2 separate regions of the Homo sapiens genome follow, and region 2 is linked to region 1. The links come from fine-mapping of genetic effects on gene expression. Tissue or cell type: whole blood. Region 1 holds a variant in brackets; the other region holds the start of a gene. All regions are shown on one strand. Distances are from middle to middle.

What was found. PIP is the estimated chance that this variant, and not a neighbour inherited with it, causes the effect.
Region 2: ITPK1 starts here. The variant in region 1 is fine-mapped to the expression of ITPK1 in whole blood (INTERVAL, PIP above 0.99).

What each region holds. Positions count from the first base shown.
Region 1 is chr14:93,062,692-93,070,691 of GRCh38, reverse strand. The region is part of intron 3 of ITPK1 (inositol-tetrakisphosphate 1-kinase); the gene reads left to right. ITPK1-AS1 (ITPK1 antisense RNA 1) reads right to left here and starts at 3,240. Exons shown (of 1, transcript NR_002808.2): 1 at 1-3,240. The variant G/AG (reference allele first, on the strand shown) is at 4,285.
Region 2 is chr14:93,111,447-93,119,446 of GRCh38, reverse strand. ITPK1 (inositol-tetrakisphosphate 1-kinase) reads left to right here and starts at 3,522. Exons shown (of 11, transcript NM_014216.6): 1 at 3,522-3,675; 2 at 4,142-4,378. The coding sequence starts at 4,284.

The DNA.
Region 1 (8,000 bases):
GGAGGGCCCTCACGCAGCCTGGTAAATCAGGAAGGCTCCCTGGAAGACGAGTCTGGTTAGTGGCAATGAGCCCATCTACCCAACAGATCCTAACTGAGAGGCAAGGCCTGACAGAGCTCAACCCAGTTCCTAGGTCCTTGTGCTTCCTTCTAAAACACCTAGTTGCTAAAATGACCAAGTGCCAAGCACGGCACTATGATTACTTCCCCCGTACACAGGAGCCTTGGTCGTCTGTGATCTGGGGAGTGGGGCTGGGGCTCTCCTGTGGGCCAGGCAGAAGGCCTGCATCAGCCTTGCTAGGTGCTGTCACCTGGGGGCACCTTCCACTCCGATCCAATCTGTGGGGAAGGCTCAGGAGGAGCGGTTTCCCCATCCAGGGACTCACTGCCTCTTTCTGGAATAGTCCTGAATTTGGTGGAGGAAGACCCTGAAAGAAAGACCCACCTGCTGCCGGGCCCCCTCCAGCCTGGACGTCCTTAGGGAAGCATGTTTTGCAGCCTGACCTCTGCCCTGGCCTGTTCTCTGGGCTGCCTTTCCCCAGTTACTGTAAAAGATCGGGGAGAAGGTGACTGCTGGCATGAGGGGACTCGAGGTTTGACTTTAAAGTGCGAATGAGCAAGCTGTAAGTGTGAGAAGTGCAGCAGCCAGTTAGAGATTCACTGTCCTCCATCCACATTCCTTGAGAATTCAGACACTATGAAACCCAGTCTCTGGTGCGGCGGCTGTTTCTCAAGCAGGCAAGGAAGTAAGTAAGTTCTCCCGGCTTGCGAATGAGTGAATGGTGGGCATACGTCTTTCTGTCCGTGTTTTCTCCAGAGCTGGTGCTGGCTGGCTTGCTGGTGACCTTTGTATATGTGTTTTTACCCCTTCCTGCACCAGACTTTCAGGGAAGGAGGTTGGGTGGGTGACCATCAAACCACCAAGAAAAGGCAAGTCTGAGAAAGAGACACTAAGACCCAAGGGAAGGTCCATGTGCCTGGGGCCGAGGCAGAACTGGGTGCTGGGCCTCTGGAGGCGAAGGAACTGTGGGGATGCCCACTGGCAGGGAAACCGTGGGGATGCCCAAGCCCAGGGGCAGGGCAGGCCTGTCTGAGCTGTGGGGGAGTGGTGAGGACGCAAGGCTGGGCATGTAAGGAGGAGTGGGCCATCAGGGGATGGAGGCCATACCTCCTGACATGGAATAAACTGGGCGTAGGGGCTGGCAGGAGGCGAGGTGTTAGAATGGCCTTACAGACAAGGAGCATGGCCAGGGCCACACACAGCAGCTGGGGAAGGGGGTCCTTTGGCTGCCAATGGCTTGGAAAGGCTACAGCCCCAGGCTTGAGGGGGCTAGTGAGAGACCAGGCTGGAGAGAGTAGCGGTGCCAGGTGAGTTGTTCATGGGGTGCTGTGTCGGGGGCATGGAGGGGCTTCTGCAGGCGAAAGCTGGGTGCTCCAACCTGAGGCTATGGGGGAAGAGCCATGGGGAGGATACATGGAGGGTGATTAGACAGGGCTGCACTGGAAAGCAGACAGCAGGGTTTTCTGAGAGGGGCTGTGGCTGCAGCCTAGTGAGGGGTGATGTGCTCTCCAGGGGCTCCTGCAGTGACAGAGGGCAGCAGGAGACAGATGGCAGGGTGTGGTACCTGGGTAGATGTGGGAGGTGAGAGGGGGAGGATCAGTCCCCAGACTCCTCCCTTGTTTCTGGCCGGAGTGCCTGGGCATGGGGGTGCAGGAGGAGCAGCCGCCAGGGAGGGAAAGCCCATGCCAGCACTGGCGCTTTCCGATAGGTGTGCTGAGTGCAGGCAGCGGAGGCCTGTGTTGGTAGCTGCTCTCGGAATTCAGAGCCAGAGGGGACTCACGTGGTTGCGTGGTGTGCATCTCTGGAAGGATTATAGGTGCTAAATTCTCCATCTCAGCATTAAAAATGTACTTGTTATTTAGGTTATATTTTTACATGGTACCAACATTTTTTTAAAAGGTATGCTGAACACAGTGTCAAATGATCAATCCACAGCGGGGTTCCCTCTGCCACCCATACTCTCCAGCGTACCCCAGCTGGCTGACCCCGGTGCTCTTGATGGATTTTATTTCCAGGTCACTGGGGCATAGGTAGGGGTGGACACCTGTGAACATCCTTCCTTCTGTCGATTTTCTCTGCCGTGTGCTGTGGAGCCAAGCGTAAAGGGCTTTGGGAATAACAATCGCTGTGGGGTTCTGACGTCTTTGGAGCTGGGACAGCCCATGGTAGACTTGCGGTCCACCCATATCCTGGGCAGTGGCTTTCTGAAGTTCACGTGAGCCTGACTCTGACCTCTCCCCAGACCCCATCATCTCCAAGGAGGACCGCCACGGGCTTGGGGGGCTGGCTCTGCACACAGTGTTTCCATGTGGTCATTTGAGGCCAGTAATGGACACAGATTGCTCTTGGCTGTGCCTCACTTCCCTGTGGGGTCCAGAGACCTGGGTTTGAGTTTCTGAGTCTGTTTCCTGGCTGTGGATCTTTTCCTTCCTCTTTAAAGGGATGACAGCGCACAGGATTGAAGACACCTAAGAGATGCTGAAGGAATATTAATTGATTTTTACTCATCTGTTGTTATGATTAATGGTGGCATTTCAGTGGGGAAAATACAGCTACAGATGAAACTGGGCTGTTGAGAAAGATACATTGTTTCAGTGTGGAGAATATAGTATTTTTTTTTTTTTTTTGCCTCCCCTCTGTATCACTTTTGGGTTTCTAACAATTGTGGATTCCAGCTTACTCCTTCCTTTTTTAAAAGATAGATTTTATGGTTTTTTTAAAAAATTTGAAATGCAGGTATTTTTTTCCCCCTAAACATTGACAATTATTTTCATTCTCCATCATTTACTATTTGCTTAGGCTATGTAGATAACAAATAAGACAAAGTTATGTGAAAGCATGATCCCCATAGTGTTTTTTAATAATGATGATACATGAGGTGCTGGGAAGGGTTATATAAATGAGGTCTGCTCATAGCAGTTCTCCAATGTGGCCATTAAAAAAAAATCACATTTTTCACATTTTGGAAGACAGCGTGGGGAAATGCTCGTGAGTTGCTTTGAGTACTGTCGTCATACTCTGAGTGGTTTCATTTCTATCCGTTTTATTTTGGTTCCTGAGCTTTTTAGGTTTGCTGTTAGAAATAGAAGCTGTCACCGTGTTGCAGTCTTGTGCAGCTTCCGAAGCCTGTGGCACTCAGTTCTAGGGTGATTCTTTCTCCAGCCTTTGATGCACTGAGTCAATTTGAGCAAATCCTTTAAAAAAAAAAAAAAGTTCCCACATCCCATGTCAAGACAACAGAGCTCTGCCAGGGCAGGTGGGGCTCCCTGTGCTCCAGGGTGCCTGGGTGCCTTCTTGCAGGCAGGCTTCCAGAACCCCAGGCCCTCCTCACCACACCACGCAGGGTTGGGACTGGATCTCCCTGGTACCTGCCACCCTTGCTTGGCTGTCAAATGTCAAGAATTCCGTGGCCTCAGTGGAGCGTGCCAGGTAAGCATTTTACGTAAAAGCAAAGAAAAGAGATGGAATGAAGTACACAGGGGAAATAGGAAGGGATGGAACGGGGGTTTTAGAAAGGGCCAGAAGCAAGATTCTGCTCTTAAAGTAGCTGACTGTCCTGGCATTCTGGGGTGAAGGTATCCATAGCATTGCTACTCAGAGTGTGATCCTAGGGAATCTGGGTGCAGATGGAGAAACTCGGATGCAAACACTGGATTCCTCAGCAGTCGGTTCCCGTTTGGCCTGGTGCAGGGCTGAGACTCTGAGGAGGAGGCATCTTGACCTGAGGGCCCTGGACTGTGCTCCTTGTCCAGCTGGGCGCAGAACCATCGTAGTCAAAGCCAGGAATGGAGATGCATTGCCTCAGGTCAGTTCCAAAGACCAGGAAGCGTCCCTGAGTATTTCAGTTGAGTAAGGACCTGGCATCTCCCTCTTCAGCCCCTTCCCTGCTCTCATATTTTTATTCATGCTTTTAGAACTGCTAAATGTCAGGTGGGTGCAGTGGCTCACACCTGTAATCCCAGCACTTTGGGAGGCCGAGGCGGGTGGATCATGAGGTCAGGAGATCGAGACCATCCTGGCTAACACGGTGAAACCCTGTCTCTACTAAAAATACAAAAAATTAGCTGGGCGTGGTGGCAGGTGCCTGTAGTCCCAGCTACTCAGGAGGCTGAGGCAGGAGAATGGCGCGAACGCGGGAGGCGGAGCTTGCAGTGAGCCGAGATCGCGCCACTGAACTCTAGCCTGTGACAGAGCAAGACTCCGTCTCAAAAAAAAAAAAAAAAA[G/AG]AATTGCTAAATGTCACCTTGGCAGTGACACCTACCCTGCTTTCCCAGCAGACGCCTCTGCCCCCTACACACACACACACACACACATACACACACACACATGCACGCGCACACACGCACGCACACCAAGCTGAGCTGCCTGTTGGTGTGTCCTCCTGAGGCTGGGACTTGCTGGTCTCTGAGGAGCACGTGGTCTGGCCCTGATGTGCGCTGTGTCTACTGGGTGAGTGAATTAAGGACTGAGGTATTGTGCTACACAGGATGTGGCCAGGCCTCGAGGGTCTGTGCTTGCTAAAAATAACTCTAGATTATTCTTTTGCTCATTAAGTAATATGTACTTGTGGAAATCTTGGGAAGTCAAGATAGGCTCACAAATGAAAACCCAGAGATAATTATTGAAGCAATTTTTACATAAAATATGCTCCTTTTTCTATATGATGTGCATTCAGGTTAGGCTTTTCTGTGTCCCTAGTTTTGCCACTTGCATTTGGGGGAACAGTTGAGCATTTGCCTGTGCCATTTAAACACCTTGGAAATTGCTGTTAGAGTGGCTGCACCAGCTTCCCACCATCCCTATGTCCCAGCATCTAGAACCATTTCTCTGCTCCAGAGTCTCAAGTTCTAGGTTATTTCTGGTTTGCTGTTACTAACAGTCCTGCCCTGGGTGTCTCTGGACCTAAATCTTTGGGGACCTAAGTCACATCTCAGGCTGTTTCATTGGGTTATGGTCTAGAAGTGACTTCAGGATTTTGTTGCTAAAGAAGAAGGGGAGAATGGGGGACAGGTTGGGCTGCAGCTAGTCAGCTGTGTCCAGCACACTTGGGCCCTGGACTTAGAACTGGACAGGTTACTTGCCCCCTCTAAGCCTCAGTTTATTCTTCTGTAAAATGGAAATAATAATGGACCCAGTCTCATAGAGTTCCAGGAGTGAGGTCATGCAGATAAGGAACAGCACAGAACCTGTTTACCTAGTTTGTCCTCAGAAGGAGCTGTTTGTGATTATTTACTGGTGCCACCTCCACCACCATCATTGTCATCCTCAGTGGCCCAGGGAAGCGTGAGTCTGAATGAGGTGTGTTGTGTAGTTAAATGATGCGATGGGTAGATGAGCCAAAATGAAAGGATCTCTTCTGTTTGATTTATTTTCATGAGTAAAAAAGCCAGAAATGTCTGTAGCATAAGTTATGTCTGTTTGGTTTGGCTAAAGCAGGGCTGACCAGGGATGAGTCTCCTGCTGTGAGTGAGTGAGGTCCCAGCTTGTCCTCTGGGGTTAGAGCAGATTTTGCTCTGGCTGGGGTGCATTTGGGGGCATGGGCTGATTTATGTTTTCCTTCTTTCTGGATCTCCCCAGGTCTAGCCATGATGGGGTGAAGGCATCACCCCCAGGGAGTGCTGACCCCTGACCCTAGCCCCATGACCCCCTCCCGTGCTAGTTCATTATGGGCAGGGGAGGTCCCAGGGATTCCCCGCACACTCATCGTGACTTTTCCAAAAGCTGTGTAAATCCAGAGTTGTAACTTGGCTCTGTCTTTCTCCTTCCCCTTGATCCACCCTCAGCTCAAGAACTCCCCTGGGAAGCACAGTGGCTCCCGTCTTTGCCTCAAGTTCTCTGATGTTCTGCACAAATGGTAGGCAGAGACAGCCCTTTCAGGGACCTGATTGCCCTGGTGTCTAGTTCTCCTTTCACAGGCCTGTTTTCCAGCTCGACTGTCAATCTGAGTCTTTCTCTTTTTGAGCTTTATGCAATGGCCTTAGAGTATACCCTATAAGGAGATCCCGGCTTGCTGGTGCCCGGCCCTGCAGCTGTGTCCCAGAAACTTGGCGGTGGTGCATGGGGCTCACTCAGCACTTCTACAGAAGCCGCCTGGGGTGGCTCCCAGGGTTCCGGTGGGAATGGGGTACAGAGGCCTGAGAGGGGGCTTTGATCAGGTGTCCTGGGGGAACATTTAGAGCTCCTGGATTCTCTGCAGGAAGGCCACCAGCAGCCAGGCATGATGGCCTGTGTCTGTAATCCCAACACTTTGAGAGGCCAAGGCAGGAGAATTGCTTGAAGCCTGGAGTTCAAGACCAGCCTGGGCGACATAGTGAGACCCCATCTCTACGAAAATTTTAATTTTTATTTTTTGAGATGGAGTCTCGCTCTGTCGCCCAGGCTGGAGTGCAGTGGCGCGACCTCGGCTCACTGCAAGCTCTGCCTCCCACGTTCACGCCATTCTTCTGCCTCAGCCTCCCAAGTAGCTGGGACTACAGGTGCCCGCCACCACGCCCGGCTAATTTTTTGTATTTTTGGTAGAGACAGGGTTTCACCATGTTAGCCAGGATGGTCTCAATCTCCTGACCTCGTGATCCACCCACCTTGGCCTCCCAAAGTGCTGGGATTACAGGTGTGAGCCACCATGCCCGGCCAATTTTTTTTTTTTAAAGGTCACCAGCCCTGTTGTCTGGGCAGTAAGCACCTAGTAGGATTGCTTCAGAGTTCTAGAATGCGCATGTAAAAATTCCAAAGTGCGTTTGGCGTCTGGGCTGGGCTTCTATGAGCAGCCCAGGCAGCAGCAGTGAGAACTCCTGTGTGTGCCTCGTCTACTGAGTGCCAGGGTTAGTGCCCCACTTGCCAGGTGAGAGGACTGAGGCTCACACAGGTGGGCTTGTCACAGCCTAGCATGTGAGCTGTGGAGCTGGGATTGGATTCTAGAGGTGTGATGGCATAGCCAGTGCCTCTTCTGCTCCGAAGACTGCCTGCCTGGTGAGAGTCCAGTGACTCCTCCCTAGTTCCAGCTCCATCCCTCCAAGGCTGTGCAGTCCTGGGTAGTGGCACAACCTCTCTGAGGCCCATCTACCAGATGGTGATGAGATGGATGATTGAGACGAGGGGAGGGCAAGTGAGAAGGCCTTCTAAAACTCAGGCCCTCGTAGGAGAAGCGTGGGTAGCCTGAGGTCAGGGACAGGGCTTAGTGTGCTGTGTGGGGCTGTGGGGAGTGGGAAGCTCACTGGTTTTCTGGCTCCTGAGATGACTCGAGGGGTCTTGTGAAGCTCACACCCCTGTCTCACTGGGCAGGAGTTTGGCCTCCACTGTGGGTCTCTGCCATCTCAGGTGGGTGGGGGACCAGGGGTCCCTGGGCAGGAGGGTGTGGGTCCTGGCTTGGAGGCAGACCTTGGCTCACTCCCTTCCTTGCCCAGGCAGTATTTTTGCCGCAGGCCCTGCCAAGTAGAAATAAGTTATTTACAGTGTTTTGACAGGATCATCGGCAGCCGGGATGGGCAAGGATGCCTTTGGGACTGAGCTAATGGCCAAGGAGTGGGGCTTGGAGAAGGGTCTGGCGTGGGAGAGAGATGGGAGATGGGGGTGGGGTGGGGGCGCACATTTACTGAACTTGTTAAATCTTGACAAATGCCAGGCCTGGCCCTCCCTTAAGCCAGGGCTTTGGGGCCTGGTGAGGGCAGGACTTGATGAGTTTTCCTGTCGACCAAATATTCCGCCGGATCGCTCAGGACCCTCGGTTATTTTTGCTGTCTGAGCCCTCAGTGCCTTCCTTTGTCCATCAGGGACAAGGACCCCTGCCCACCCAGTATATCTTCTTGGGGAGAAGATGAAACGCCTTGGTGTATGGTAGGCCAGGCCCTGGCCTTGACTGTGAGCCTGGCAGCCCCTGCAGCCCCTCACACTGGGCCACCATTGACCTGCTTTACGACTTCAAATAGCACAGACCTGCCGTGGG
Region 2 (8,000 bases), 49 kb before region 1:
TGAGTGGTCGAGTTGAGAGCTAGAGACAGAGGACATTTGTGTTCACCTTGGAAGTCCCAGTGAGGACGAGCCTTACCTAGCTCCAACTCAGAAGGCCAGAAGGAAGAATGGTTTGGGGGAGGCTGTAATCAGGGGAAGGATGCAGGGCCCTGGGGTGAGCCCTAAATAAGGGGCTTCCTGTGAGCCTGAGGATGGCCATGCCCTTGTATATACTTTGTCCTCCAGGCAAGTTCTCTGCTGGCCCTTTAAATCTTCTCAACAGCTCTGGGTGGGGCATCTATCCCCACTTTACAGATGAAGATACCAAAAGAACTTCATCCAGGCCAGGCATGGTGGCTCATGCCTGTAATCCCAGCACTTTGGGAGGTCGAGGCAGGCAGATCACTTGAGGTCAGGAGTTTGAGACCAGCCTGGTTAACACGGTGAAACCCCATCTCTACTAAAAATACAAAAAATTAGCCGGGCGTGGTGGCGGGCGCCTGTAGTCCCAGCTACTCAGGAGGCTGAGGCAGGAGAATGGCATGAACCCGGGAGGTGGAGCTTGCAGTGAGCCGAGATTGCGCCACTGCACTCCAGTCTGGGCAACAAAGCAAGACTCCGTCTCAAAAAAAAAAAAAAATACAAAAATTAGCTGGGCGTGGTGACACGTGCCAATAGTCCCAGCTACCGGGAGGTCAAGGCAGGAGAATCGCTTGAACCCGGGAGGTGCACTGGACTCCAGCCTGGATGACACAACAAGACTCCATTTCAAAAAATAAAATAAAATAAAATAATAAAATAAGATAAAATAAAATAATATTAAGAAAAAAAAAGAACTTCATCCAGCTCCTGTTCAGAAGTGACCACACACACACTGTCTTCAGCATCCCTCCCAAGTTCCCCTGGTCCATTTCTCAGGCCTCATCTTCCTGCCCATCTCCATCTTACCGTGCCCTTATTTACGGTGTTCTTCCCTTTTCACCCTCTGAAACTTCGCACCTGTTTTCGCCTTTGCCTGGAATGTTGCCTCCTTCCCCCACTGAACTCCTTCCTACTCATCCTTCAAGATCCTATGCCACAGTCTCCCCAGTCATGCAGCAAAATGGGACAGATTGCCATCTTCCTTCCCATTTCCCTCTCAGCTCTCACCCCACGTTTCCTTTTTTCTTTCTTTTTTTTGTTTTTGAGATGGAGTTTTGCCCTTGCCGCCCAGGCTGGAGTGCAATGGCGCGACCTCGGCTGACCGCAACCTCCGCCTCTCTGGTTCAAGCGATTCTCCTGCCTCAGCCTCCCAAGTAGCTGGGATTACAGGCATGCGCCACCATGCCCACCTAATTTTGTATTTTTAGTAGAGATGGGGTTTCTCCATGTTGGTCAGGCTGGCCTCGAACTCCTGATCTCAGGTGATCCGCCTGCTTCGGCCTCCCAGCGCCCAGCCTCATCCCGTGTTTCTAATCAATGGCTTGTGTCCATTTTCCTCTGCCACACACTGGGCTCTCGTGTGTTTGCCAAAGGAGTGAGGGAATTCCAGGAACCCTCCTGAACCACCCAGCCTCAACTGGTCTTTCAGTTCCTAAGAACAGCAGGACATTTAAAGTCGATGCCTGTAATCCCTACTGCTGACTTCAAGTATCAAGTTTATAGTTGCTGCCCCCATCCCCTTCGTTTTTACTCCCTTAGCCGCCTTCTTTTTTTTTTTTTTTTTTTGAGACGGAGTCTCACTCTGTTGCCCAGGCTAGAGTGCAGTGGCACGATCTCAGCTCACTGCCAGCTCTGCCTCCCAGGTTCACGCCATTCTCCTGCCTTAGCCTCCCAAGTAGCTGGGACTACAGGCGCCCGCCACCACGCCCGGCTAATTTTTTGTATTTTTAGTAGAGACAGGGTTTCACCGTGTTAGCCAGGATGATCTCAATCTCCTGACCTCATGATGTGCCCACCTCGGCCTCCCAAAGTGCTGGGATTACAGGCATGAGCCACCATGCGCAGCCTCCCTTAGCCTTCTTTTATCCATCTTGTGCCTCGGCCCTAGGGGTCCTTGCTATGATCTTCCCTTTATCCAGCTTTCCATGTCCCCCCCAGGAGCCAGGCATTCTAAGCCACAGAGCTGACCCTGGAACCTGTCACCACTTACCTTCTAGGCTCCCATGGCCTATGAAACTCGCAGTACCCTTGCCTAAGGCATGCAGTGCCCGTCCCTAGCTGGCCCCCTGGAGGAGTCCTGTTTCCCACCCATCGTCTTTTCCACTCTCCATCCATCCGTTTTCTCTACCTTGTTAAAGAAAAAAACTAATCAGATTCTCGTTAAAGATGGCAGGGAAGCCAGGCGGGGTGGCTCAGGTCTACAATCCCAGCACTTTGGGAGGCCCAGGTGGGAGGACAGCTTGAGGCCAGGAGTTCGAGACCTGCCTGGGCAACACAGTGTAGTCCCAGCTGCTCGGGAGGCTGAGGTGGGAGGATCAGTTTAGCAGGGGTGTTCGAGGCTGCAGTGAGCTATGACTGCACCATTGCACTCCAGCCTGGGCAGCATAGAGAGATCCTTGTCTTTCTTTTTTTTTTGAGACGGAGTTTCTTAATGTAGGCCGGCCAGGGTGATCACATACCAAGCGTGGAGATATTCTTGACAGCAGGATTCTGGCTAAAACTGGACTAAGAAGGCCAAGGACAGAGCCCAAGGTCGGGGCCTGGTCAGAAAGAGGTCTCGGAGGAGCCTGACTCAAGTGTGATCAAGGGAAGTCTTGGTCACCCGCTGGCAACTTGGCTTTTTCTTGTCTCCCAGCCTCAATTCAAGCTCATCCCCCTTCCCTGCTCCATCAAAATCTCCTTGATTTCCAAGGCCAGCTTCAGTGTCTCCTCTCAAACTTTTCTGAGCCTTCCCTCCACGGGAATCCATTTTTCCTGCCTGGGCCTGGGGAGAGAAGTCCATTTCTCCTTCCCAAACCCAGAGACCATTGAGGCAGGAAAGCTCCCTGGCTGCCCCATAGGGCAGGGCAGGGTAGGCGGGGTTTAGTGACTCCCCGGCGCCGACGCTGACCCGCACCCCTGAGGAAGGGGTCTCCGGGGACGGCCGCTGTTGTCGCTGTCGCCTCCAGTCCCCGCCCCTTCCCCCCTCAGTGAAGGGGACCTAGAGTGAGAACTGGTGGTCACGTCCTACGCCTAGGAGGGCCCCTGGGTGTTCACCCACCCCCCCGGGGGGCCCCATCCTGGGCCAGGGTCCGCTTCCTCGAGGGAAGGGGCGAATTCCTGGAAGGTCTCCTTCCGGGCGCAGTTGCAATGGATTGCCTTGGGGGTGCTGAACCCTGCTGGGGGTACAGAGACGTTTCCGAAACTCAGCGGCTCGGTCGCCCCCAAAGGCCAGGCGGAACACACGCCCACACCGCGGCTCCCTTCCCGAAGTAAGACCGCCGGGCCACGGCCGCCCCCAGGAAGCCCCGCGCCCCGCACCCCACACCCGGGGACACAAACAGGCGCCGGGTAGCCGCGAGGGCCGGCGCGGCGCCTTTAAGAGGCGGCGGGCGGCGCTGCCCCCTGGCGGCCGCCCCGCCGCTTCCTCGCCGCCGCGGGCTCAAGCGGGGCGGCCGGGCCAGCGCGGGGCGGCGGCGGGCAGGGGCGGCGAGTGCGCGGGCGCTCGCCGCCGCCCTTCTCGGCGGGCAGCGCGCGAGGACCAGGCCGAGGAGGAAGTGGCGGCGGCGGCGGCGGGTGAGGATCTCTGGCCGGGCCGAGTGGCCGCGTGCGCCCCGCCGGGGTCCAAGCGCGCCCAGGGGTTACGGCCCGGCTGGGAACATCAGAGGGCGAGGACCCGGGCGGGAGGAGGAGGGAGGAAGGGCTCGGAGGCCGCGCTTCTGCCGCCGCCTGAGGGCGTGTGGCTCGGGCCCGCGCGGCGGGAGGGCGGGCAGGGCGGGGGCGGTGTCTGCGGAGGCCCGGCTTCCCCTCCTGCGGGCCCTGGCCCCAGCTCCGACTCAGACTCAGGCTCAGCCGTGCCCCAGCCTCAGCCGGCAGGCCGGGCGGCGCGGCGCTCGCGAGCCGGTGGGCGGGCGGGCGAGCCCGCAGGCGGCGGGGGCGTGGGCGGTGGCAGCTTGGCCCAGCCAGTGGCCTTCCGCGCTGAGCGCCGCTCCCTCCTCCCGGCCGCCCGCCGCGCCCCGCCCCGCTCCGCTCCGCGCGGCAGGACTGCGCGCCCCAGCTCCGATCCCCGTTCCGCGTCCCCGCCGCCGGGAGGAGGTGCCCACTCGCTCGCGGCGCGCGCCGGCCGCCAGACTCGGCCTGTGGGCGATTTCCTCCGGACCCAGGCTCCCCGCCCGAGGAGGAAGATGCAGACCTTTCTGAAAGGGAAGAGAGTTGGCTACTGGCTGAGCGAGAAGAAAATCAAGAAGCTGAATTTCCAGGCCTTCGCCGAGCTGTGCAGGTAAGGAGGGACGCGGCGCCGGCGCCCGGGGACCCCCGGCCCGAGCCCGGTGACCCCCGGCCCGAGCCCGGTGCAGCCTCATTAGTTGTTTTGGGAGATCGGAGCCAAACGGGAAGAAGCGGCGCGCGGGGAGACTGAGTCCGAGCAGCCAGGTGGCGGTGGCGGCCGCCGGCCGCGTTCCAGGGAAGCGGTGGCCGGTGCGGGCGAGGTGGCACGGACCGGGGCGTTCAGGTGCACTGTGACCCGGCTGGGGAGGCCCCCAGCAGCCCAGGGCGCGGTGGGAGTTCTACTGAGGGTTGCGGAGGGACCTGGGAAATCGGGGCATCCACGCTGTGGGGTAAGGGCTTGAGGGTACTTTTGGACCGGAGTGTTTTTCTTCCTTCGTCCCCTTCCCTTTCATGAAGAAAGGGCACCCACGTTTGTGGACCACCTACTATGTGCCCCGCGTGTGCTCGGCTCTTGAGGCTGTCATTGCATATCATGAGGTTAAGCCCAGTTGAAGCGAGTAGCAATTCTTGGCATGTATGTGGTGATTTGCTGTCTCATTAGAGCCTCGCAGCAGCCCTGCAAATTGGCCAGGGTGGTGATTCTGGGCCACCTGTCTGAGAACGGGGACCGATCGGCAGAGGAGCGGGGTACCTAGCTTGGGGTCCCGCAGCTAGGGAGTGGCTGGTGCGTAGAAAGTGCTGGGTAAATGCCCGTGGTGTGGAGTGGCCTTCTGCCATCTGGGCTGTGTGCCCCTGCTCCCACCATGCTGGTGCTCCTTGGCGGAGTCTCCGGTGTTTAACAGATCACGTTCTTAATAAATTACAGAACTACTGAGTCTTGGGTCAGGTAGGCCTTCCCTTGCTCCACAACTGTAGCTTTGCCTCTGAGAAGCAGTTAAGCCCTTTTCTCAATGCAAGCCTAAGAGAATCTAGCTCTGAAAGCCTTTTGCAAACTCCAGGTGGAAACCTTTTGTGATGCAGCTTGTTAGACTGATTTTTGAAAATGGGCTCTACTTGCATTTTTGTCCCTGTGGGGGCCCCACACATCTTGGAGAATTGAACAGTTGGGTTTCCGTAACCCCTGGTGCTCCTGGGGGCCCGTGGCTGGTCTGAGCTGGCATGCGCAGGTGAGCCTGGCAGCACCTCTGTGTGCCTCATGCCTTTCCCAAGGGCCTGCTGCTCCTTTGCCCCGTGCAAGCCCCGCAGGCGCTCTTCCTGCAGCCAGAGGGGCACAGCTTGTACAGGATAGTGCCTGGTTCTTTATCCCTTGGTCTGGGGATGGGGTTGGCTGCCTTCTCCCAGGCCGGTTTCCCTAGAAGACAGGCTCTTCATGATCAATAGGGCATGCAGAGTGGCCCCAGCAATTCATGAAGAAATCAGGAGGAGCTCGAAGCCAGAGCTTTGAAAATGAGTCTTAGGACCCTTGGAACATTACAAAAGGGTACTTGAACGTTGTACCGCGGATACACTCACTTGTGGGAAGGGCATTCTAAGACACTAAAGAAATTTGGAGCAGCTGCTTTGGCATGTTCTCGAAGTCCAGTTCTGATGTGAGGCACCGGAGCTCCCCCTGCAGTCATGTAAGACTTGGGAAATCCCAGCGAATACCTCGCACCCTTTGTACTGCTGTCTGTATTTATGTCATCTTGTGTCTGCAACTCAAGCTTGAGGCTTGTCATTGGGTTGGCTTGTTTTGCTTGGTAATTAGGAGGCTCTCGCAAAATATTCTTCGCCGAGACTCACAACTAGGTCCTCGTGCTGGACCTGCAGATTGGCTTGACCTTGTAGACATTCTTCCTTTAAAGGGGTGGGAGGTTCAGAGCAAGCTATGCTATCAACGTTCTGGGGAGTAGAGCATTACTTTCTCTGAAAGAGTTGTTGTCTTCAAAGTCTAGTTGCCTTCCTTTGGCCAAAATATTGGCTTCAAAGAAGGCAGAAGTCATCAGGGCCATTCTAGAACCCGAGGAAGCCCACTTTGTGTTTTCACTAGGGAAGCTTTAGATATTTTATCACTTAAGCCTAAGAAGGAAAAGAAAACACCAAAGAGTTTTTCCGTTTCTTATTTATTACTTTCAGGGCAGTGCCCCCTGGTGGCCACATTTCTATACTGGCTGCAAAATGCTGCAACTGTTGAGCCAGTGACCAGGGAGCCCCGTGAGGTTGTTTTGTTTGGTGTGAGGGCCAATGAGACTTTAGTGGCTGAGAGACAGTGCAAAGGACATTATCATGTTTTCCACATTCAGAATCTGGGGGCGCAGGGCTTCTGTACTGACGACGGGTGATGAATTGTCTATGAATTCCCTAATGAAAAAGTCTAAAGGTATTTGAAAATGGCCCTGCTTTGGGCCGGGTGCCGTGTCTTCTGTCTGTAATCCCAGCACTTTGGGAGTCCAAGGTGGGTGGGTCACGAGGTCAGGAGATCGAGACCATCCTGGCTAACATGGTGAAACCCCATCTCTACTAAAAATACAAAAATTAGCCGGGCATGATGGCAGGCGCCTGTAGTCCCAGCTACTCAGGAGGCTGAGGCAGGAGAATCACTTGAACCCGGGAGGCAGAGGTTGCAGTAAGTCGAGATGGTGCCACTGCACTCTAGCTTGGGTGACAGAGCGAGACTCCATCTCAAAAAAAAAAAAAAAAAAAATGGCCCTGCTCTTAATGTTTGGGCAAAGAATGACCCGAATGGTCCGGCCCGGGGTGGGTTGTTTAGCTGAATGTCCGGCCTTGTAAAAATCTGATCTCAGAGCAGGAAGAGATGTTGGCCATCATCTCATCTAGCCCCTTTGTCTTACAGATGGGGAAACCCATCAAGAGAGGGGGCAGGTTCCGGACTCTTGGTCTTTTCCTTTAACTTCTAGAATGGGTCCAACCTGGCTACCTTGAGATTGCCTTTCTGATTGGGCATCTCCGACAATAAGGCAGTCTCCCTCATTATCTTTCCAGGGGTCTGGTGGCTGCTATTTAGCCCCCAGGACACATTCCTTGCAAAGCTGAGCCCCTCTGCAAGTGTAATCCTTGTCTTGGGGGGAGGGTTTGGGGGGTAGTGCACGTTGATGGCAACAGTGGGTGGTTAGAGCCACTTCATGGGCCATGAAGTGCCCCACCTGCCGTAGGTAGGGACAGGCGCCAGCCTTTTCAGATGTGCACTCTGATAGGATGGGGCTCTGCTAGCCAGCAGATGGGCCTTTGAATCCACTTGTTTGTCAGTGGTACTGTTTGTTCCTGTTGCCATCCTGTTTCTTCCCCTTTCTCTGGGGACACGGCTCTGGTTGTGTTCTCTTGTACCCCTCCCACCTGCCTTCCCTAGCCTGGGAGCAACCTTGTAGGTCTCCCACACCACCCCCTCTTTGTGGCTTTTTTTTTTTTTTTTTGAGGTGGAGTCTCGCTTTGTCGCCCAGCCTGGAGTGCAGTGGCGCAATCTCGGCTCACTGCAACCTCCGCCTCCCAGGTTCAAGCTATTCTCCTGCCTCAGCCTCCTGAGTAGCTGGGATTACAGGTGCGCACCACCACGCCTGGCTAATTTTTGTATTTTTAGTGGAGATGGAGTTTTACCATGTTGTCCAGGCTGGTCTCGAACTCCTGACCTCAGGTGATCCGCCTGCCTTGCCCTCCCAGAGTGCTGGGATTACAGGCAT